7 linked regions of the Homo sapiens genome follow. The protein of the gene in region 1 interacts with the protein of each later gene in a biochemical or structural test. Each region holds a gene or a part of one and is shown in the gene's direction. Other genes may lie near its edges. The genes, in order: RTKN, FRMPD1, MFHAS1, TJP2, GRIP2, LIN7A and SNTG2.

Region 1 (3,301 bases):
TAGACTGTTGATCTGACAAGTCTATAATGACTTAAGTGATGCCATGATAAAACCAAAATATTGGGGAAAATATTTGGCAAATTATTCTAAGAATATGCCAATTTGGATAAAGTGGTCATTTGGAGAACTGGTTTTTAGGAAAGTGGCCTACTTACTCCACTGAGGCTGCTAGGGGAAATAGTCCCAGCCCCTCACAGGTATGGTGCCCATTCCAGCCATGAAGGCTGACACAAGAGGAGGTTGCCAGGAGCTCACCCATGAAGCTACCAGAAGAAGGCAGAAAACCCACTGTATGGCTATCCCATGAAGCTAGAGGAAGGGCAAGCTGGTGGGGGGACAGCCTCTGAGAGGCAGCATGGACAGACTCTGTCCTGCCAAAGTCCTCACACAGCCCACACAGGTGATTTGAGGTACACCCCAAGTGCCTGGCAGCTAAACACATTGCCATTAGTGCCACATCATTTAGCTTAAGGCTCTACTAAGTCAGTAATTACTTTAGTGGCATTATGAGTAAGTACAGATGAACTGGCAGTCGCTTCAGGAAAGGGACACATGGTGAGTCCTGATGATGGGCAGGGAGGGAAGGAAGGTGGGGTGTCGGGCCCTGCAGTGGGGTGTGGGGGAGCTGCAGAACTTGGGGCACTAGTAGGGTACACCATATCAGGCCAGGAGGAAAAAGGAGAAATCAAAGTTGGGGAGTGGTAGGGAAGGAAAAGGGTCTGTAGTGAATGGAACGTAACTCTTCCCTATTGGTGATTTTCCTTTGAACAAATGTTGGCCAAATTATTTTCTGACCCAGTACCCTCCTATATCAAAGAAGTGATGGGATGGTGGGAAATAAGCAGCTTTCCTATTGTTAAAAAAAAAAAAAATAAAGACTGGAGACCCCTCTAAGCCAGGGGTTTAATGGAGAGCCCTGGAAATGAAGTCTTTCTGTGGGCACCTGTCCCCTCAAGGCTGCACCTGTCCTTGGCAGGGATCTGGAGAGGTGGTCAGGGAGGTTGCTTGGAGAGAGGAGCCCTGAGCTTGTGCCTTATGTGTGAGTTAATGTGGCTTGAGTGTCCCTGGTGTCCCCAAGCCTGGCAAACTGCTGGGTTCAATGAACAACTTTCCCTTATAGTCCCTCAGCCCTGCCTGTCGGCCTGGCTGGGAACCTGGTGGCTGAGGCGCTGGGATCAGGGGGATCCTAGAGTCGTTGGGACCAGAGCAAGGGGGAATAGTGGCTAGAGGCCAGGCCAGGACATTGTGATTTATCCACAGGCCTTCTGACAGTGGCCCGCCCGCTGAGCGCTCCCCCTGCCGCGGCCGGGTCTGCATCTCTGGTAAGAAGCACAGCTACCCCAGCTGCTGGTACCCCTTGCCCAAGCACACGGCCTCCTGCCCCATCTCAACATCTATTCTTACCCCTCTGCCCCTTAGACCTCCGGATTCCACTCATGTGGAAGGACACAGAATATTTCAAGAACAAAGGTGGTGAGTTCCACACACCCTGGGACAAATTCAGGGGAATGACCCTGAAGTAGGAGGCTCTCGTGGGACGTGTTTTTTGTTTTGCCCTTTGTCCCCAGACTTGCACCGCTGGGCTGTGTTCCTGCTGCTGCAGCTGGGGGAACACATCCAGGACACAGAGATGATCCTAGTGGACAGGACCCTCACAGACATCTCCTTTCAGAGCAATGTGCTCTTGTGAGTACCTCACACTGTGGCTACCTCCTTCCTCCACTCTGCTCCAGTTCTGGATGAGCGAGTTCCAGGGGAGGAAGCTGGGATGGGGGCAGGGTGGAGAGGAGGGGCACCTGGCCTTCTCTGTGGAGCTGTCCTGCACTTGCCTCACCCACATCCCCTACCCTCTGCCTCCCTGGACTTTCCTGTGACCACCCTCCTTTCTTCCTCCCACCAGCGCTGAGGCGGGGCCAGACTTTGAACTGCGGTTAGAGCTGTATGGGGCCTGTGTGGAAGAAGAGGGGGCCCTGACTGGCGGCCCCAAGAGGCTTGCCACCAAACTCAGCAGCTCCCTGGGCCGCTCCTCAGGGAGGCGTGTCCGGGCATCGCTGGACAGTGCTGGGGGTTCAGGGAGCAGTCCCATCTTGCTCCCCACCCCAGTTGTTGGGTAAGGCCTTGCACACCGACACCACCCTCAGCTGCCTGTATTCTGCCCACAGGTGACCTTTGAACTGTGTTGAGTGTGCAGAACCCATTTTGCATTGCTGCCAGGATGTGCAGACAGATATGAATGAGCAGTGGCCACGTAGCTGGGAGGCATTCCAGCCCACGCCCCAGAGCTGGGCTGAAGCCAGTCCAGAAGACCAGTGGGAAGGCAGGGAGACTTAGGCCCTGGGGTCTTACCTTTTTAGCAGCAGCAAATACATTTTATTTTTAGAGACAGGGTCTCACTATGTTGCCCAGGCTAGTCTCGAACTCCTGGGCTCAAGTGATCCTCCCGCCTCGGCCTCCCAAAGTGGTAGGATTACAGGCGTGAGCCACAGCACTCAGCCTAGCAAATACATTTTATGTGGATAGAGCAGAGCTTCTTGGTTGGAGCAGAGTACCCTGGGACCTATGGTGGTACCTAAATGCACCTGGAGACACCGCATGGGACCACTGAGACTCTGAGAAGCAGTTTGAGAACCTTTGGGTAGTGAACAGAATACTGATTTTGGACATAGATATGGGTTCAAATTCAAACTCCCCCACTTTCCACCTATAAATTATGGGCAAGTTTCTTAACCTCTCTAAGCCTCAAGCTGCCTCATCTAGTTGAAGAATGCCACCAACCTCACAGGGCTGTCATAGGAATACAGTGGGATAAAACATATAAAGCATACGTCCTGACACTTAGCTGGAGCTCGGTAAATGTTCATTCCTAACCCTCTGGGGAGGCAAGCGAGTTTTCTGTGGGGCAGTCTGAACAATGGGGCAGATCTGCTCAGCCCTTAGAGTTCCTGCTGGCCAACATGCCCCTCCCTTGGCTGATGCTCTCTCCTATCTCCCTCAGTGGTCCTCGTTACCACCTCTTGGCTCACACCACACTCACCCTGGCAGCAGTGCAAGATGGATTCCGCACACATGACCTCACCCTTGCCAGTCATGGTAAGTATGTGTGTGCATGGGGGACATACACATGTGATGGTGAGAAGAGGGGCTGTGGGATGGTCCCCTTCTCATTCCCCTACCTCACCCTGCACTTCCTCCTCCCCCAGAGGAGAACCCTGCCTGGCTGCCCCTTTATGGTAGCGTGTGTTGCCGTCTGGCAGCTCAGCCTCTCTGCATGACTCAGCCCACTGCAAGTGGTACCCTCAGG
Region 2 (3,500 bases), on another chromosome or scaffold:
GCTGAGATTGATATTTTTGAATACTTAAGAGCCAGGGTTTATTGAACTCATACTCTGTTCTAGAACTTTACTAGGCATGGGAGACATGGAGATGAATGGGTACCACCCTTGTCTTCTAGGAACTCATGGTCCAGGATAAATAATATGATATTTTTTCCTTTGTGGTCATCAGTTCAAGGAATACCGGTCAAAATGGTAACAGAAGATCAAATTTAAAATTTAAATTCATGGTACAGGTTCACCAATGATTTCCTAGAGAGATTGAATTGCCAGTTTGTATTGTCATTCTTTAATCTCAGGACTAGTACCTGTTGGGCCTTATTATTTTTATTCATATTTGGTATGACACATAATAGTACTCCATAGCCCTTTCAGTTGTGCTTCTTTGATAAGGTTGTACATTTTCTGTGTTAATTTCCAGCTTGCTTTCTTCATGTGAGAGTTGTCAATTCACTTGCTTTGAGCATGTGAAATGTGGGTATCTACTATGTGTATTTATGCCCATTCTTCATATATTTGTATTATAAGCTTTCCCCACTTCAGGATTTTTTTAAATTTACTTATTTTCAGCTGCTTTATTGATAGATAATTTACATACCATACAATTCCCCCATTTGAAGTGTACAATTCAATGGTTCTTAGTGTATTCACAGATCTGCAACTGTCACAAGTCCATTTTGGAAGGTTTTCATCCCCCACAAAGGAAACCTATACCTATTAGCAGTGACTCCCAAACCTCCCAAACCTCCCTCCCTGAAGCCTTGGACAACCCCTAATCTACTTTCTGTCTCTATAGATTAGTCTGTTCTAGATATTTCATGTTAATGGAATCATACAATATGTGGTCATTTGTGACTGGCTTTCACTTAGCCAGATTCATCCATGTTTCATTCCTTTTTATTGCCAAATATTCTGTTCTGGAATACGGTATTTTATTTATCCATGTCATTAGTTGATGGACATTCGAGTTGTTTCCACTTTTGGACATTTACAGAAAATGCTGCTATAAATATTCATGTGCAAGTTTTTGTGTAGACATTTATTTTCATTTCTCTCCGGTACATACCCAGGAGTGCAATTGCTGGATCATGTTGTACACCATGTTTAGTCTTTTAAGAAACTTCCAGACACTTAAAGGACTTTCTAGAATTTCTATTCAGTTTCATTGGTGAAAGCCACACTATGCAGTTTTGATTATTGCCTTTGTCTGAAAGGAGTGCTTACTTTTCAACTGTAACTTTTCTGAAATCTAAGTATTTCTGATAGAAATTTAGAGTTCAAATTGATACGCGCTGTAAGTGTAAAATAGACCCTGGATTTTGAAGACTTAATATGAAAGAATGCAAAATCTCTCATCAATAATTTTTTGTATTAACTACGAGTTGAAATGATACTATTTTGGATATATTGAGTTAAATAAAATATATGTTATTAAAATTTATTTCACTTATTTTTTTCCTGTTTTTATGTAGCTATTAGAAAACTTAAATTTACGTATGCGGTGTGTATATTTCATTTGGACCGCACTGCTCTAGAAGCAGTGCTAGTGTGCCTATTGAAGAAAGTAGCCCCAATTTGAAACCTGCTTCCCAGCTGTATGACTTTAAGCAAGTTAAAATCTCTCAGAGCAAGATTTAGTCTTTTCACCTATAAAACAGGAATAATAATTGTACCCACCTCAAAAGTTTGAGGGTTGAGTGAGATATATATATATATATAATGTTAAATCACTCCCTAAAATATAGTTAGTATTCATAAATGTTATTAATTATTATTGTCGTTATTGCTGTGATTACCATCAATTTGTCAAGTTGTTTTTTAATCTGGAAGAATTTTTTATTTATATTACATTAAATCTCTATTTAATTTAGAACTTTTTTTTTTTTTGATACTTAGTGTTTCCATCCAGGAACCCAGCATAACTTTAACCCAATTATTGTGTTTTCCTTTATTGCTTTAAGGAAAGTTATATTATTTTCTTTAAATAAATCCTTCTTCCCCTGAATTACATTAGTACACATCACTAGTTTTGTTACTTGAATCCTTTCTTGGCATTTTCTAGATATTTAGCATTCACTCATTAAGAATGCCTAACACCGAATGTACATTCAGCTAATCTGCTTTTAATGAATTGTTTGATCCTTTTTGTGGCTGTGTTTTGTGTTTTTATCCTGCATCTCCACTAAACTTATCTTCTGGCACTAAAAATTTTCTTTGTTCATCATTTTCTGTGTGAATGTCATCTGCTAAAAAACAAAAAAAAAATAATAAGGTGGTACTTTTCCATTCCTGTGCTCATTATTCCTCTTGTCATTTTTCCTTCCCTGATAACTATTATTAGCATTTATCCTACTACATTAAATAAAACACCAAATTGTTTGTTTGTTTGTTTTTGAGATAGTCTCGCTCTGTCACCCAGGCTGGAGAGCAGTGGCATGATCTCAGCTCACTGCAACCTCAGCCTCTTGAGTAGCTGGTACCACAGGTGTACACCACCAAGTCCTGCTATTTTTTTGTATTTTTAATAGAGACAGGGTATTGCCATGTTGCCCAGGCTGGTCTTGAGCTCTGGGACTCAAGTGATTAGCTAGCCTCAGCTTCCCTAAGTGCTGGGATTACAGGCATGAGGCACTGCACCTGTAATGTCAAATGTTGATTTTTGACTTTTAGTATAGAGTGTTATTTATTGCATTTAGAAAAACCTTTTTATAGCTCTAAATGTTTTTTACAAAATCAGGAATAGGCTGGGTGCGGTGGCTCCTGCCTGTAATCCCAGCACTTTGGGTGGCTGAGAGGCAGATCACTTGAGCTCAGAAGATTGAGACCAGCCTGGACAACATGGAGAAACCCCATCCCTACTAAAAATACAAAAAATTAACCGGGTGTGGTAGCACGAGCCTGTAGTCCCAGCTACTCAAGAGGCTGAGGCATGAGAACCGCTTGAACCAGTGAGCTGAGATCATGCCACTGCACTCTAGCCTGAGTGACAGAGTAAAACCCTCCCTCAAAATAAATAAATAAATAAATAAATAAATAAATAAATAAATAAAAGATTGAAAAAAAATCAGGAAGAGCTATGGGCTTTATTTAGTGTGAATTTTCAGTTTTCTGTTTCTTCCCTCTCATTAGGTCTCTCTGCTGCTCCAGCTCAGTATTACCTGCATGCTGGCCTAGAAGAAAGACTCCCTCTGCTTCTAGGTTGTGTGGGCTGGGTCATCTATTCATACAGATCCTAAATTTGCTCTAAGTCAGGGCCTGGGGGGGATCCTTGGTGGATAGTGTACACGAGACTTTGGACTTGTGCTTGTCACTTACATTTTGGCTCTGTGAGACAGTTTTTCATATTTCCGGATCCTTGTTGAAACTGGAGATCATTATAAATGAGAGGGAGATGATTTTCAGATAAGTGAGGGCCTATTGCATTAGGCAGGGTTCCTGAAAGTGTTTGGTAAATGGATGAGAATAAATGATAGACCTTAACCGCAGAGTCCCAAGACAGC
Region 3 (2,777 bases), on another chromosome or scaffold:
AGAGGGATCGACTGACGTTCATTGCTGTTCCATAACTAGTGTAAAATATGTATATGTTTATCTTTATTTTTATAATATGCAAATACATTTAAATTTATACAGTTTGAAGCTTCTAGCGTTAGTTCACACTGGGTGCAATATTCTGCATGAGAACTGTGCCAAGATGGGGCTGATTTCTTATTTTAGTATAAGACTTTTTTGTTTTTTCTTTATTCTTTAATCCTCTTCACATTAAAAAAAAAATCTCTCTGTTAGCCCATGGATTAAGTGTTGGTTCATAGAGATTGCCAATAATCAGAAAGAACCTTAAATGTGCATTTAAGACAGTGTCCCTTCCCTTCTTTTCAATGAAGGTCCCTGCCTATATAAATCATCTGGCACGCTGGTGGGAAATCCTTTGCTCTTCCAACGTGTTATTAGTGCTGGGCAGAGATGGGGCACACTCAGGGGCCAAAGAGGACAAAAAGTCCATGCAAAACTTGAGTCTTTTAATGGCTTAAGATAATCAGGAGTCAGTTCTGAATCTTACAAAGTGCTCTGCTTAATAAGTACCTTACTTAGCAGAGCACTTTGCAAACATATTACTTATTAGCAGAGCTCTTTGTAGACCTTCCACATCTGGCTGTCAGATCTTAAGGTTGTGAATTTAGGCTCCAGTTACATTCACTGGAGAGCATAATCCCACACGGGTTATTTATAAATACAGAGCCTCTGATTGGACGGTCTCCTGCCAAGAACTAGTAATACCCTTGTTTTAAAATCTTCACAAGGTAAAACTTAAAAAGCCAACCAAACAAATTGCTCTCCATTCTACTTTTAATTGGGCCAAACAGCATATGCTACAGTAGTAACATGTTTTTCGGAGAGTGTAAAAAACTCTGTTTACATTTGCCTCCTCCGTGGGTTGATCGAAAATGTATAAAACTGACTGCTTCTCGCCAGCCTCAGACAAGAAGAGTGAGTTGCTGGTACTCGCTACTCTTTTACTTCTTTTGTAAAGTATTGACTCTTGGAAGGCTACAGTATACAAAGTCTCAACATGTTTTTTAAAAGAAATAAGGAGCAAGCGACTGCCCTGCTAGAAATCACAAACCGATTTTTGTAGAATATTTTGTGCCCCAGGCATTAATTTCACTGACTCCAGAACCTGCAGTTCAGAGAATGATTTCTTATGATGATAAAAATCGAATGGGATCAGACGATGTTTGCATTTTTTTAATACTTGAATAGGACACCTCAAGTTTGAGATTTCATTTTCTTTTAGAACACAGTCACAAGATTAATCTGGTGAATCCTTTTGTCACAGTTCTCGTGTGTGTGTGCGCGTCTCCGTGTGTGTGTGTGTGCATGTGTGTAAAACTGAATGGTCACATTTAATTGCTTTTTGGACCATTGAATAGTTGGGAAGTAAGAATTTTTTAATTGGCATGAGACGGTTCCTCAACTGTTAAATTAACCAACTTTGACCTGTCTTTAGAAAAAGGCTTATTTGTATGATTTTGGGCTAACTCCCCGGGGACCATATTAAATGACAAAAATGCTCCTTTGGGTGACACACCCTACAAAGTATTTGCTGTTACGAACATAAACGCCCACATTCTTAATATCTAATATTTTTGACCAGTGATGTTTTATGCTGTCATCTGAACCCTAGAGAAGCAGTGTCAGAGGAAACCTTGGTGTCACATGTGTCTTAGCAAAAGGGTTACCATGATCGAGGGTCATGTGACCAAAAGATGCTCCAGAGAAGCTTGAGAATTTGTTTCAAGTTGGGAGGAGGGTTGGAGATACAAAAATCACTCTGCTCTACAGGACTCTTCAGCTGTCTATGCAAGAAATTCCGTTTTCTCTTTCAGCACCTGGAAAGACACAGCAGCCCACCGAGGCGATAGGTGATTCACTAAGCACAAGAGGAATGTTTTCTAAGCAAGGCGTCCCTTGCCTCTCAAACAAATGCCCTCCAAGTTTGTTAGGGTTTCTATTCCTGCAACTTGTGGTATCAAAACCACTTCCTGGAATTGTCAAAGCACTGCCAAAATAAATGTTTTTCCCCCTTCTAAGAAAAAAAAAATGACAGTGCTCATATTTGACACTTGTGTATTGGACTCTCTTTTGAATGAATAAAAAGGAAAAGGGGTTTGGTGTAATTCCTGATGGGGTGCGTGTTGTTTTTCATGCCATGGTTTGTGAATTTTAATTGTGGTTTCCCATTTCGTTGTTGTAACTGGGCAGAAATTAAAAAAGAAAAATCAATAAAAATACAAAGAAATGGTTAAACAGTTGTATTCCCAGAACTTAATTATTTCAGATTTTGTTCATTTGTTTTTACTTTTAATTCTATCAGTTAAGGAATGACTTTTATAGTTTTAGTCCTTAGTGGTACTGTTGGAGCTGTGGGAGGTGGGTGGTGGTAGCTCTCATCTGTTTGGTCTCCGAAGAGAAAACTAAAGAATCCCTGTTTTAAAACTGCCTCTGTTTTCAGGCTGAGGATATAACTTGAAGATCAGCTCTCTTAAATCAGAATCTTTTTTTTTTTTTCAATGATCCACTATATTCCTAAGTCACAGCTGTTGAATTTATGGTAGCTTTGGAAGTTCCCCTGATCTTTCTTTCAAAGGCTCTTAGCAGAAGTCCTGCTACATACTGCCTCAGGGTGCCCTATTTGCAAACTGGAAGAGCAGGCCCCTCAGGTACCCATCAGAGGATTTAGTACTCCATATTGTTTAAATAAAGGCAAAGAGAAGATAAGGAAGGACCAAAGCCAGGGTGTTAACGTG
Region 4 (3,500 bases), on another chromosome or scaffold:
CATGGGGTGGAGCCGGGTGCAGTGGCTCACACCTGTAATCCCAGCACTATGGGAGGCCGAGGTGGGCGGATGACTTGAGGTCAGGAGTTGGAGACCAGCCTGGCCAACATGATGAAACCCCATCTCTACTAAAAATGCAAAAATTAGGTGGGCGTGGTGGTGGGTGCCTGTAATCCCCACTTCTCTGGAGGCTGAGGCAGGAGAATAGCTTGAACCCCAAGGGGCAGAGGTTGCAGTAGCAGAGATCATGTCACTGCACTCCAGCCTGGGTGACAGAGCGAGACTCTGTCTTGAAAAAAAAAAAAAAAAAAAAAAGAAACCATGGGGTGGGCCCTCAGAGTCTCTATGTTAATAAGCTCTCCTAGTGGCCTTGCTGCATCTCAAGTGGAAAACCACAGTGGAGGACAGTACTCCGCCTAATCATTGTTGAGTTTCTGCTCTATGCAAGGGCTATGTTGAATATTCTTTTACGTAGTCCTCACAAGAACCTTGTGTGTTAGGAGGCTTCGTTTCTGTTTTGTTTTGTTTTGTTTTGTTTTGTTTTGTTTTGAGACGGAGTCTCGCTCTTTCGCCCAGGGTGGAGTGCAGTGGCGCGATCTCGGCTCACTGCAGGCTCCATCTCCCGGGTTCACACCATTCTCCTGCCTCAGCCTCCCAAGTAGCTGGGACTGTAGGCGCCCGCCACCACACCCGGCTAATTTTTTGTGTTTTAAGTAGAGACGGGGTTTCACCGTGTTAGCCAGGATGGTCTCGATCTCCTGACCTCATGATCCGCCCACCTCAGCCTCCCGAAGTGCTGGGATTACAGGCGTGAGCCCCCATGCTTGGCCAATGAGTGCATTTTTTAAGAGGATTGAGGAATTGTTGAAAAATGCCAGAGAGATGTTATCACTCAAGCTTGTCTCACTCAGCCTTCTGTTCTGGGCTGTGAGGCTGTTTGACCACTAGGGGCTCGCCATCCATGAAAGTAGCTTTGCCCTTCCCTTATTCCATTCTTGACTATCAGCTTCCTAAAGGACTAGGGCATGGGCCACAACACTTCTAATCTTTGTGGTAAGATCTGGCTGACAAGTTTACCGTAAATCATTTAAAACTTATTTTAAAATTGACTTCATACCTTTCCTGAATTGTGGAAAGTTACTTTGTTTTGTAATTATAAGATTTTTAGTTTGAACAATAATAAAAAATTTTGTGCCTGTTTTAAAACCTGCTCTGTTGTGGTAGTTTCCTAAAATGTGAACAGTTATTCTTAAAATAATGTATTTTTACAAGTTTATTAAGTAAAACCAGAAGAGTCTTAAGTAGCATTGAAAGTATTTAAAAATATGCATAACTTAGTAATTACAATGTTTTTGTTTTTGATAGCAATTCAGAGTCCATAAACTCCCAAAGCTATGCTGGTTTTAGTTGAATGCTTTATTAATTACTTTGCCTGACTTCTTTACCCCTTTTCTTCACCCACTGAATTCCTTTCAATGCCAAGCTTCATATAATCTAAAATGCTAGATTTTTTGCAGTGCCTTCCTGTAGACAGCCTCATTGTCAGCAGAACATGCCTATTAAGGTGTGCTGAATTGTTTTTTTTTCTCCCCAACATTTTATTTGAAAAGTGTTAATTTGGCCAGGCGCAGTGGCTCACACCTGTAATCCTAGCACTTTGGGAGGCCGAGGCGGGTGGATCACCTGAGGTCAGGAGTTCGAGACTAGCCTGGCCTACATGGTGAAACCCTGTCTCTACTAAAATACAACAATTAGCTGGGCATGGTGGTGGGCACCTGTAATCCCAGCTACTTGAGAGGCTGAGGCAGGAGAATCACTTGAACCTGGGAGGCAGAGGTTGCAGTGAGCTGAGATCATGCCCCTGCACTCCAGCCTGGGTGACAAAGCAAGATTCTGTCTCAAAAAAAGAAAGAAAAAGAAAATGTTAATTTTATAGCAAATAAACATATAACCTTCATCTAGTTTTACCAGTTGTTAACATTTTGCCACACTTTCTTTTTCCTCCTCCTTTTTTTTTCTTTCCTTCTACTCCATCACCCTTCCTGTTACCTCTCTCAGTGGGTTTTTTGGTACTATTTAAGTAAGTTGCAGGCAACTCACCATTACCCATAAATATTTCAGAGGTATCTTCCAAAGATAAGAACATTCTCCTACATCAGTCACCGTAATACCATTATAACACTTAAGAAGATTAACATTAATATCCCTTTCATATATTATAGTTCATTTTCAGATTGCTCCAAATGATGTAACTCATTCTTCCCCCACCCTCCACTGGATCAGGGACCTATGGTAGTTCATGCATTGCATTTGGTTTTTATGTAACTTTTAATCTGGAACAGTTTCTCTACCTTTTTTGTTTTTTATGGCATTGACTTTTTTGAAGAGTTCAGGCCAGTCATCTTACAGAATTTCCCATATACAAAATTAACTTTTTAATACATATTTTAAAATAGTCCTATAAACCAGACTAAGTTTTTTGAACAAATTGATAACATACGTGTATGTTTATGTGTTTGTCTCCTAGAGTATGGTCTCCGGCTTGGGAGTCAGATCTTCGTAAAGGAAATGACCCGAACGGGTCTGGCAACTAAAGATGGCAACCTTCACGAAGGAGACATAATTCTCAAGGTGGGTAGATGGGGGCAGAGAACGGTAGTGTGCATACTGCCGTTCATCGCCTGCATGTCCACATTCAGCACCCACACAGTGAGACTTAGATCCAGTGAGAGTCAGTGGTAAGACAGAGGTGGCAAGAGCAGCATAATGAGACGATTTTTATCAGAAAAACCAGACATTGAGGGTCGTAACAGTTTAATGTCAGTTTAGAAAACAAAAACAAAAAAACTCCATGAATATTTTCTTCTTTCCTGTTTAAAGTTTAGATCCCTATTCCCTAAACTAAGGAAAGATGAGAAGGAAAGTTGGTGATATATGAATGCTGAATATTTAATAGGTCTTGTAAACCTCTCCAGTCAGGAAACACGTTCCAGTAGTAAACCAAACCGTTGTCTTGAGCTTGGAAGTTAAATAAATTAGCAGAGTAACTTACACCTGTATTTGGGATCCAGGCATGCAGGATTATATTTAATTTAAACGACAATTCATTTTTATTGAGTCATCCTAAAGCCAATATCTGTTTGAATATCTGAGCAAAGCCTTTACATTTTTAGAAGGGGAAAATATGAATTTTCTACTGTGAATAATTTTATTGCATTTAACATTACCATTTTTTATAAACACAGATCAATGGGACTGTAACTGAGAACATGTCTTTAACGGATGCTCGAAAATTGATAGAAAAGTCAAGAGGAAAACTACAGCTAGTGGTGTTGAGAGACAGCCAGCAGACCCTCATCAACATCCCGTCATTAAATGACAGTGACTCAGAAATAGAAGGTAAAGGAAGAGGAGGCTGTGAGCTTAGCTGGAAGTAAGGAAGGCTGTTGCTTCCCCATTCTTCTATTTAGTGTAGCTATCCAGCTGGAAGTTAAATTTCT
Region 5 (3,500 bases), on another chromosome or scaffold:
GATCAGGGAAAAGGGGAAATAAGGTGAGGTCACAGAAGGGAGGCAAGCCATTTAACAGAGAGAAGACTTTGGTCATGTTACCCACCCCTTGCACCATCTCTTGGGAGGGCGAATTTATTGTTGGTGTCTCATAAGAGGGTCCATGGATAGCAAGGACAAGGTCCTCAAACAGGTTTTATTGAAGGAGCCTGCTCAGGGGCTGTGTGGGAGCCTCTGGATGGGAAGGGGTGGGTGGATGATTCCTGCTTCTTGTCAAATCCTGTCCAGGAGGTGCCCATGAAGATGGGCACAAGTCCCGCCCGCTTGTCCTGACCTACGTGCGGCCCGGTGGCCCTGCCGACAGGTGAGCCGAGGCAGAAGAAATCCACACACTGCACTGACCTGCCCCAACTCCCCTGCGAAGAAGGTGGAGTGGGGTCACCATGCCCCTTCCCCAGATGAAGAGATCGAGGCCCTGAGGGAACACTCCCTGCCCGGTGTCATTCAGGGAGTTGTTGATGGAACCGGGATGTAACCCCAAATGAGGGAAACCTCGAGCCCTTTCTTCCCCAACATACTGCTGTCTCAGGGGTTGGGGTGTTTGGAGAGGGGCAGCCTTGGTGTCGTTCTTCCCTTTCCTGCTCCTTGGTTTTCCCGTCTGTGGAATGGTCCCTAAGAGTTGCTATGAGAGATTTGGGGGCACGCTGATTGGCCACTGCTGTAGCCGTCTGTGACTCAGTCTCCTGGGTCCTGGCTGATCGACCCAGCTCGGCCCCGCCTGGGCCCAGCCCAGAAGGGCCAGGAGGAGAGAATGTGGGGAAAGAACATGTCCAGTTCCCAGCCCCTGATCCCTCGGCCTCCCCAGTGGGAGATTCCTGGCCATTTTAAGAGAAGCCTGGAACGGCCTTGTCAGAAATCTAAATCTGTCCTTGGGACAGGGCCCTGTGATGAGCTATTCATAGAACCCCCGAGAATAGCTTTGGCCACCTGTTGGGAGAGGCGTTCCAGGCTGGGGATGCGACCCAAACCGAGGTGAACCCTGCTGGGGCCCCTCCCCTGGCCCCTGTTGAGTTCTTTCCCAGGCGCGGGTTGTCATCAGGCCAGAATCACCGCTGAGAAACCAGGGTGAGGGTGGAGCAATGGGAAGGGACCAGGACGGCTCAGAGCAGCCCCCAATGCCGTGTGGCATGGGCACAGCTTGCACCCTCTCTGGGCCCTGGTGCTGTCCTTTGTCCCTGAGGCAGGAGTTGGGGGTGACGCTTGAAGAGCACCCCCAGCTCAGACATTTCAGGGTTCTGCACTGAGTCTGTGAATTACTGCACACCCAGAGGAGTGGCAGGCGGCAGAGCCACCCCATCCTGTCTTCATCCCCCCCTTGCTTTATGCAGCTCCCCACTCCTGGAGTGGCTCATTCCTTCACTCACTCATGCGCCCCTTCACCCGTCCCCTCCTCCCCTTCCTCCCCCACCCATTCCCTGCTTCTTCATCCTCCATGTCCCGCTTCCCAGCGCCCTCCCAGACAGGCTGTGCCCAGTGCTGCTGCCGGGCCAGGCTGGTGACTGGCCCTTCCCTACAGGGAGGGCTCCCTGAAGGTGGGCGACAGGCTGCTCAGTGTCGATGGAATCCCGCTGCACGGGGCCAGCCATGCCACCGCCCTGGCCACCCTGCGGCAGTGCAGCCACGAGGCACTCTTTCAGGTGGAGTATGATGTGGCCACCCCTGGTGAGTTGGGGGCCTGAGTGTGTGGGTTGGGGCAGGAGGAGGCCTGGGATGGGGGGAGGTGGCAGTGGCCATGGATCTTTACCACTGCAAAGGCTGCATGACCTTATGACCTTGGGCCAGTCACAGCTTCTCTGGGCAGTAAATAGTATGTGCTAGGCATTGTTTGATGTGCTGGGGATCCAGCCTAGAACAACAGAATTGAGGTGTCTGTTCTCATGGAGCTGGCATTCTGGTGGAGAGAGGACAGTATCCAGAATAGATAAGATATGGTGTATGTCAGTTGGCAATAAGTGCTATGGAAAAAAGAAAAGAGGCAGGGGAGAGAGATGGGACAGGCTGGGGGATGCTCTCTCACTAGGGGAGTGAGGGAATGAGCGAGGCATGGAATGTCCAGGGACAGCATTCCAGGAGGGCGGAAGAGTAAGTGCAAAGGCCCTGAGGCAGGAGCATGGCCAGCATGGTTGGTCACAGTGAGGAGGCTGCCGTGGTTGGCACAGGTGAGTGAAAGGAGGTAAGGGCAGAGCAGGGTGAGGTGGAAGCCGGGAGGCCATAGGAAGCGGCAGCAGCTGTCCAAGCGAGAGCTAAGGGACTGAACCAGGCTGGTGGCTAAGGAGGGGAGAAGGCACGGGATTCAGGAAATATGATGACGGTCCAGCTGGCCTGATCTGCTGAGATTTAGACATGGGTGGGCGAGGGCAGGAGCTAAGGGTGCGGCCAAAGTTTTAATTTCCAGCCACTGGGTGTGTTAATGGAGGTGCCATTTCCTGAGATGGGGATGGGTTGTAGTGAACTTTACAGTTTAGTGCTGGTATACCACAGGCTCTTCATAAACTCAAGCAAATTCATTTCACCCAGCAAAGCCCTGGGATCACAGCCCCTCAGACCTGAGCTCCTGCCCCTCCTCCACTGCTATCTTATCTGTCAAATTGATATAACATTTGGTAGAAGATAAAAAAAGAAAGAAAAGGAATAAAAAATTATGTTAATCAAATGGGTATAACAGTTTCTTCCAGGCAGCAAGGATTAAATCAGGATAGCAGGGTGAGGCTGGGGAGGAAAGTGCTCGGTATTTGCATTTCAAACTTTTTTTCTCCGTCATGCCAGACACGGTGGCTAATGCTTCGGGACCCTTGATGGTGGAAATAGTCAAGACGCCAGGGTCTGCCCTGGGGATCTCGCTCACCACCACCTCCCTCCGGAACAAGTCAGTCATTACCATCGACCGCATCAAGCCAGCCAGCGTGGTGGACAGGTAAGGCACACCCTGGGTGCTGCCACCATGGAGGTGTGTGCAGGGGAGAGGCGGCCCAGAGCTTTGTCTGGCCTGGACCAGCCTCCGCCTTCACTCCCCTGCCTGGCCAGGAGCGGAGCCCTGCACCCTGGAGACCACATCCTGTCCATCGATGGCACCAGCATGGAACACTGCTCGCTGCTTGAGGCCACCAAGCTCCTGGCCAGCATTTCAGAGAAGGTGCGGCTGGAGATCCTGCCTGTGCCCCAGAGTCAGCGGCCACTGAGGCCCTCAGAGGCAGGTGGGTCCCCTCAGTAGATCTCAGGGCCCAAACCTGGGCAGTCATGAGGCCTGAGAGGCCTGGGACCAGAGCCCTGGGCAGGCTGGGAGGAGCAGGCTAAAATGTACTAGGACAAATCCTCATTTGCCCAGGGAAGCTCAAATTATTAAGAGCAGCAACTGAGGGTGGGAAGGTGGGGCAGAGAAACAACTTGAGGGTTTGAATTGAGTCTGCTGGCATAGATGCCCCAAAGCTGGTTTCATCACTGGTTGCATTAATAGGAGTATA
Region 6 (3,500 bases), on another chromosome or scaffold:
TCCTGACCTCAGGTGATGCGCGTGCCTCAGCCTCCCAAAGTGCTGGAATGACAAGCAAGAGCCACTGCACCCAGCCTGTTTTTTATTTGATAATTAAAAGTTACAAAGAGAATGACTCAAATCTCTAAAGCATTTTGGTTACAAAAATAAGAAATTTGGTGAATCCTTTCTAGTTTGGTGTGTCATTCATCCGAGCCCTGAAATGTATTTGGTGTGCTCCTGTCAGTTATGAAATTAATGCTCTTGCTTATGAGTGTTGTTTTTCAGGGATCACAACTAAGGCCTAGCTCTTAAGTAGAGGAAAGAAAACATCTAGGGAGTACTATCAAACAGGAAGGTGTCCTGGGTATTAGAGATGGTGTTATATGCACAATGCCAGTATCTCTTTGAGTTCTTTTCTTAAAGTCATGACATTTGCCTGTTAGGATATACTTTCCATCAGGTCAGAGACCATGTCGGGTTTGTTTATGTAGAACCCAGCACATTGTGTGGCACATAGTTGGCACGCTCTTTGTATTTGTTGATTGAATGAGTGAATGAATGAATAAAATTGGCTTAGCAAGACTTAGCTGTCATGGATTATTCTTAATGCAACAAAACAAAACAAAACAAAAGCCTTCTAACCTAAAATAATGAAAAGTAGTGGCTACCTTAGGATGTCACTTTGCCTCTCTGTGTATGTAGCTGGCTCCTACAAGTGTAGTGCTCTCAAGGGCCAAGAAAGAATGTGAGGTGTTGGTTTTGATAGTCATAGCCCTGTTTCAGTTGTCTGCATTTACCCTGCTGTTTTAACTTATGAATTGAATCGCACGAGCTAATGTCAGAATACAACTGAAAAGGTTTTTTAAATGGGTGGAGTTGCTATAGAATTGCCCCCCTCCACACACATATATATAAGCTACGCTTTTCAATTTTTTTAACCATAAATACATGAATGACAGAACTATGTCCTAATAAACAAATTAAAATGGATTTAACTTGAACTCACTCTGCACTACCAAATGTGAACTTAACCTTAAAAATTGTGTTAATTTCATCCATGCCTTAGTTCTGGTTTATTCAATTGAGATCTTTAAAAAAAAAGATTGAATTTTGCTAAGTAATATACTAACTGAATTCAAACACTTGTCCAATAAAAATAAATATGCCTGAAAACCACTTGAAAAAAATCATGAGGGATTGAAACTTATTTTGTAGTTATATTCAAGTATCTACCTATCTTGGACATAAAGCTAGGGTGTCTAATTTCCATTGATGGTAATTTTCCTTAGAAACAATATAGCTAGTCCAAGTCTAACTGTTTGTGCAACTTTTGTTTACTTGCCCAGTGTGGAGATAGTTATATTTCAATATAACATCTTTTGTTTTTAAATTAATCAAAGGATTACCTTTAACTAAAAAAAGATAGAATAATGGGAGTCACAACATGGCTATAAGATTTAAACCCACAAGATAGATGGAGAAACATAGCATGAAATCACAGCTGGGTCTATTTAACAATAATGAAGAAAAAATTGGGGAATATAGTTGAGGGACTGCTGAAAGTGATTTTTGAGGAAAATTGGAGAAGAGCAGTAATTGCTGATGGACAAATAACCTGGCTTCCAAAAAGATGACAAAGGTGTTTTGGGAAACTATAGGGCAATCTATTTGTTGCCTCTTGGCCCATATATATATTTTAAAATATATATAAAATGTGTGTGTGTGTGTACATATATATATTTAAAAGAATGAGATATTGGCACTTAGAAAAGAAAGTGGTGATCCCAGAGGCTACGTGGAAAATCACTAAGAGTAGACATTGCAGAAGTTCAGACATATGTCATAGTCTCATTATATATTCATGACCCCACAACTCTCACAGACACCTTGTGGAAAATGTGGAAATACATAAAGTGGATGATTGCATTGTTGGATTTCTAGTAGAAACACTTCTCCAAGGAAGTTTGGTTCATGGTCTTGTTTGGCACTGTTACCAATATTTTGAATGAGCACCATAGAATATATTTTAACAAACTTTACAGGTGACTAAGCTAGGAGGAATAACAAATAATTTGGCCAACCCTACCAATATTCTAAAATTATTCCTAGCTTGAATGGCAGGTTACAATAAAAGAGATAAAATTTAGAGGAAATGAATGTAGCCTTCATTTATTAGATTGAATCAAATTAGAATGCTGATTGCATATTGATTGTACTGGTGTCTGACTGGAATAATCTGGTTTAAGAGTATTTTATTTGGAAAAGATTGAGGACTTTATTTATTAGGTTGGTGCAAAAGTAATTGAGGTTTTTGCCATTGAAGGTAATATCAAAGACTGCAATTACTTTTGCACCAACATAATAATAAATTCATCATGAGCAGTGTGATTAAATTATCAAAATATTATAAAAACTCTCTGGAAAATTAAATATAAAACTAGTTAATATTAATAATGTAGAAAAACACTAATACAGCATACCCTAGCAGGGATTATTTAAAAGATATTAGAATAACTGTATTGGTATATTAATCATGTTAATAATAAGTTTTAAAACATGATGAAAATTAAACTCAATACAATACAAAAATTAACTCAAGATGGATTAAAGACTTAAATGTAAGACCTAAAATCATAAAAAACCCTAGAAGAAAACCTAGGCAATACCATTCAGGGCATAGGCATGGGCAAAGACTTCATGACTAAAACACCAAAAGCAAATGGCAACAAAAGCCAAAATAGACAAATGGGATCTACTTAAACTAAAGAGCTCCTGAACAGCAAAAGAAACTATCATCAGAGAGAACAGGCAACCTACAGAATGGGAGAAAATTTTTGCAATCTACCCATCTGACAAAAGACTAATATCCAGAATCTACAAAGAAACAAATTTACAAGAAAAAAACAAACAACCCCATCAAAAAATGGGAAAAAGATATGAACAGACATTCCTCAAAAGAAGACATTTATGCAGCCAACAGACACGTGAATGTCATCACTGGTCATCAGAGAAATGCAAATCAAATCCACAATGGGATGCCATCTCACACCAGTTAGAATGGCGATCATTAAAAAGTCAGGAAACAGATGCTGGAGAGGATGTGGAGAAATAGGAACACTTTTACACTCTTGGTGGGAGTGTAAATTGGTTCAACCATTGTGGAAGACAGTGTGGCGATCCCTCAAGGATCTAGAACTAGAAATGCTATTTGACCCAGCGATCCCATTACTGAGTATATATCCAAAGGATTATAAATCATGCTACTATAAAGACACATGCACATGTATGTTTATTGCAGCACTATTCACAACAGCAAAGACTTGGAACCAACCCAAATGTCCATCAATGATAGACTGGATTAAGAAAATGTGGCACATATACACCATGGAATACTATGCAGCCATAAAAAAGGATGAGTTGATGTCCTTTGCAGGGACATGGATGAAGCTGGAAACCATCATTCTCAGCAAACTATCACAAGGACAGAAAACCAAACACCGCATATTCTCACTCATAGA
Region 7 (3,500 bases), about 73 Mb from region 1:
CACACATTCATGTTCACATACATTTCCACACATACACATGTTCATGTGTGCACACACATTCTCATGTGCACACATACACACACACATGTTCTCACGTGCACACACCACAAGGCATTTGATGTCTGGATGATGCACAGGGATAAATGTGCAATGCTCTCCATGATCAGAGGGTCATCCTGCAGAGCCATCTGCGGGGCCAGGAGAGCCAGGGCATCCCCCCGGAGAGTCCAGAAGGCCCACCTGAGACACACCAGTCGTAGCTTTTACCTCAAACCTGTGCCTAGAGTGCATGTGTCAGCATATTTCAAGTAAAACTATTTGGCCAACTGCTGAGTTCATGTGGATTTTGGGACTGGACCTTGAGCGTAAGTGTGAGTGGGGACTGTCCAGCTTGGCTGGTTGGCACAAGTGAATGGAGATATCTCAGAATCATGATGGGAAGACCCAGCAGGTGGGCAGCTCCCCTTCCTTTCTGCTGCCATATGCAGGGCTGTGGGTGAACACCACATTCTCATTCAGGACTTTGGAAACCCCAGCCCAGGTGTCTCCCCTTGTTTCCCTTCACTGGGGAGAGACTGGTGCAGCAAAATTGATGTTGGGGTGCAGCGTCCCAGGAAGGTGTCTGGTGGGGGCTCTTCAGGGTGGATCTGTGGACCAGTAAATGAATGGGTGAGCTGAGAACTGAGGTGGGTCCAGAGAGAGACAGACAGAGACAGAGAGAAGGATAGAGAGAGACAGAGAAACAGACATAAAATAGAGAAACAGAATGACAGAAATGGAGAGAGAGAAAGAGACACAAAGAGAGACAGAGACATAGAAATGGAGACAGAGAGAGAGAGAGAGACAGACAGAGACAGAGAGGTGCCAGCCAGGTATTGAGTGCGCGTTCACCATGCACCTCCATGCTGTTGACCTAGTAATTGTGACAACTGGGACCCCCAGTCTTTCTCTTCTGCCCTTGATAAAATGAATCCCGAAGTGGGGTGCAACCTTGCAGATGGGGGAAAGAAGTGGGGAGCTCCCCAGGCTGCTCCATGCAGCACAGGCTGGCAGCATCCGAATCGCCGAGTGATTAATAGACGTGCTGTAAGTAACTTACATCTCTGGGTTAAACGATTAACCAGAAATGGAACAACATCATTACATCATTCCCTTTGTCAGGCCTTTGGGTTGGCAGAATGAGCTCCTGGGTGGCCGGGTGCCTTGTCATGCTTCAGAGGCGTTTTGGGCACTCGGTCCTTTATCTCAGGACAATGAACCCGCAAGGAGAGGAAGAGCCAGTAATTCTATAGAGACTCGGAGGCGCAGGGGGCACGCTTAGTTAGAGTGGTGGTGGTATTTTCAGTGTTTTCTGGTTTTATGATAAACACAAGCATCAATGTCTCAAGACTTTCATCTTTATCTTTTTTTTTTTTTTCTTGAGACAGGGTTTCCCTCTGTCACCCAGGCTGGAGTGCATTGGTGGTGTGATCTTGGCTTTCTGTAACCTCGGGCTTCTGGGCTCAAGCCGTTCTACTACCTCAGCCTCCCAAATAGCTAGAACTACAAGCGTGTGCTGCCACACCTGGCTAATTTGTTGTATTTTATTTATTCATTTATTTTTGTGAAGACAAGGTCTTGCCATGTTGCCCAGGCTGGTCTCAGACTCCTGGGCTCAAGCAATCCACCCACCTTAGTCTCCCAAAGTGCTGGGATTACAGGCGTGAGCCACCACACCCAGCTTCATCTTTCTCTTCACCGTAAAACAGGAAAGTGTGTGGTGACCAGTATTTTAAGGGAAAGGCACTTACAGAGAATTAAGCATTTGACAAAATTTATTTACAGATATTTGTCTGTGGACCACTTCCGCACCAGCTGTGCATGAGAGGGCTCATTGCTCTGAATTTGCCTCCTTGTCTGCACCCAGGAGACCGTTTCCCAGATCACGCAAACGCTGCCTTCTCCCCACACCAGGGCCCTCAGCATGGGAATGACCTTCCAGCGCTGCACGTTTCCAATCCATGCTCTGTTTTTCAGTTCTGGCTCACAGAGGACTGCTGGTTGCAAGCAAACTTGTATCTGGGTCTTCAAGATTTTGACTTTGAGGACCAGAGGCCCTATTGCTTCAGCATCGTGGCCGGCCATGGGAAGAGCCATGTTTTCAACGTGGAGCTTGGCAGCGAGCTGGCCATGTGGGAGAAGTCCTTCCAAAGAGCCACGTTCATGGAAGTTCAGAGAACCGGGGTAAGTGAACAACTCACACTCTTCTCACCTACACCTGCTCGGGTGTCTGAGACATAGCATTGGGGAATATGTAGCAGTTTATCGGGGGAAAAGAGGAATCTTCAGAAGGTGAGAATCTTTCACCGGAGCTACTGTGTGGAAATGATCGTTCGCACGGAGTCATGCGCTCCGTGGATAAATATGAGCTGTAGTGGAAGGGAAGGGGAGGAGAGGATTTTGTGTCTGTGTCTACATTGAATGTGAGGAACGGGCTGCATCGCTTTCCAGGAAGGGACTCCACCGATGTGGCGCTCAAGTTCCTGAGAAGTGATGACACTTCTAGCCTGTGCTCCGGGAGACAGAACACCTAGCTTACAAATGAGTATAATGTGTCGTGCAGTTACTTGGATGTTTGTAATATTTTAAGGCACTTTAATGGTTCTTCCTCTCAAACTTGATGGTCCGAAGGAGAATATAAAACAGCTTGTGTGTCTGAATTGCTTTTCTCTTCCTGACAACAGCAAATACATCACTCACAAATTTGAATGTATACCATGTGAAGGGATGAGGAAGAATGCATTATAATCCTCCTTATCCTAAATAGCGGGATGATCCTTCAGGGAGGATGTGTGCTGCAGGAATGAAGAGTGACAGGAGATAAATGAGGCAGCGCATCCCAGAGGAGCTCTGACTTCACACCAAAGTCCAGGGCTCCCGCCTGGCTGAGCGCGGAGAATGCTGAGTGTGAACTTAGTAACTAAAGATGGCTACTTCATTTAAATATACATATATACCTTGAATGTGAAACTATTCTGTGTTATTTATCTTTCATTCACGTTGTCAAAATGTATCCAGGCTCCTTGGCATGCCATCACAGAGCACGAAGCTTCCCTGTAACTAATGCACACTGAGATCTCTTAGTCCACAGAATGAAGTCACACCCAGATCTTCATAGAAACTGATGCCAATGTTTATTCTCATTTATCCCAGGCTGCTGTGATTTTCCCCTCAAATTGGGCACCCTAAATTGGAATTATGGTTGATTCCTGATGCTTAAAGTAACCTTTATATTTGAAGCATCCAATTCATTAACCATTATAGAACATTACATGCTGGAAAGAAAATTACTAAACATAGGATCCTTCATCTCAGGGACTTACTCAAATGTATAGTGGCATTTAGCCACTTAGAAACCATCAGCACTAAAGGTTCAAGTCGTTAAAAGGCAAAGTGAAAGAGCGTTTCTGGGACAAGGTGACCTTTCTGCTTGTTTTCTTTAGATGATAGCAGTAATCATT

The links.
Region 2: the proteins of RTKN (region 1) and FRMPD1 interact in a test that uses a peptide from one of them, tested with the Homo sapiens proteins (one large-scale study listed by IntAct).
Region 3: the proteins of RTKN (region 1) and MFHAS1 form a complex in vitro, tested with the Homo sapiens proteins (one large-scale study listed by BioGRID and IntAct).
Region 4: the proteins of RTKN (region 1) and TJP2 interact in a test that uses a peptide from one of them, tested with the Homo sapiens proteins (one large-scale study listed by IntAct).
Region 5: the proteins of RTKN (region 1) and GRIP2 interact in a test that uses a peptide from one of them, tested with the Homo sapiens proteins (one large-scale study listed by IntAct).
Region 6: the proteins of RTKN (region 1) and LIN7A interact in a test that uses a peptide from one of them, tested with the Homo sapiens proteins (one large-scale study listed by IntAct).
Region 7: the proteins of RTKN (region 1) and SNTG2 interact in a test that uses a peptide from one of them, tested with the Homo sapiens proteins (one large-scale study listed by IntAct).

The regions. Positions count from the first base shown.
Region 1 is NC_000002.12:74,428,637-74,431,937, reverse strand, and holds part of RTKN (rhotekin), read left to right. Parts: intron 1-1,260; coding exon 1,261-1,322; intron 1,323-1,419; coding exon 1,420-1,473; intron 1,474-1,568; coding exon 1,569-1,686; intron 1,687-1,900; coding exon 1,901-2,110; intron 2,111-2,995; coding exon 2,996-3,090; intron 3,091-3,200; coding exon 3,201-3,301. UniProt on the Homo sapiens protein: Mediates Rho signaling to activate NF-kappa-B and may confer increased resistance to apoptosis to cells in gastric tumorigenesis. May play a novel role in the organization of septin structures.
Region 2 is NC_000009.12:37,702,954-37,706,453, forward strand, and holds part of FRMPD1 (FERM and PDZ domain-containing protein 1), read left to right. Parts: intron 1-3,500. UniProt on the Homo sapiens protein: Stabilizes membrane-bound GPSM1, and thereby promotes its interaction with GNAI1.
Region 3 is NC_000008.11:8,782,854-8,785,630, reverse strand, and holds the end of MFHAS1 (malignant fibrous histiocytoma-amplified sequence 1), read left to right. Parts: 3' UTR 1-2,277; downstream 2,278-2,777. UniProt on the Homo sapiens protein: Probable GTP-binding protein. Functions in innate immunity and more specifically the inflammatory response as a regulator of the Toll-like receptor TLR2 and TLR4 signaling pathways.
Region 4 is NC_000009.12:69,222,777-69,226,276, forward strand, and holds part of TJP2 (tight junction protein 2), read left to right. Parts: intron 1-2,527; coding exon 2,528-2,631; intron 2,632-3,245; coding exon 3,246-3,399; intron 3,400-3,500. UniProt on the Homo sapiens protein: Plays a role in tight junctions and adherens junctions. Acts as a positive regulator of RANKL-induced osteoclast differentiation, potentially via mediating downstream transcriptional activity.
Region 5 is NC_000003.12:14,519,843-14,523,342, reverse strand, and holds part of GRIP2 (glutamate receptor-interacting protein 2), read left to right. Parts: intron 1-267; coding exon 268-343; intron 344-1,555; coding exon 1,556-1,701; intron 1,702-1,720; exon of another isoform or gene 1,721-2,149; coding exon of another isoform or gene 2,150-2,198; intron 2,199-2,805; coding exon 2,806-2,953; intron 2,954-3,063; coding exon 3,064-3,233; intron 3,234-3,500.
Region 6 is NC_000012.12:80,927,935-80,931,434, reverse strand, and holds part of LIN7A (protein lin-7 homolog A), read left to right. Parts: intron 1-3,500. UniProt on the Homo sapiens protein: Plays a role in establishing and maintaining the asymmetric distribution of channels and receptors at the plasma membrane of polarized cells.
Region 7 is NC_000002.12:1,265,349-1,268,848, forward strand, and holds part of SNTG2 (gamma-2-syntrophin), read left to right. Parts: intron 1-2,016; coding exon 2,017-2,223; intron 2,224-2,723; coding exon of another isoform or gene 2,724-2,747; exon of another isoform or gene 2,748-3,500. UniProt on the Homo sapiens protein: Adapter protein that binds to and probably organizes the subcellular localization of a variety of proteins. May link various receptors to the actin cytoskeleton and the dystrophin glycoprotein complex.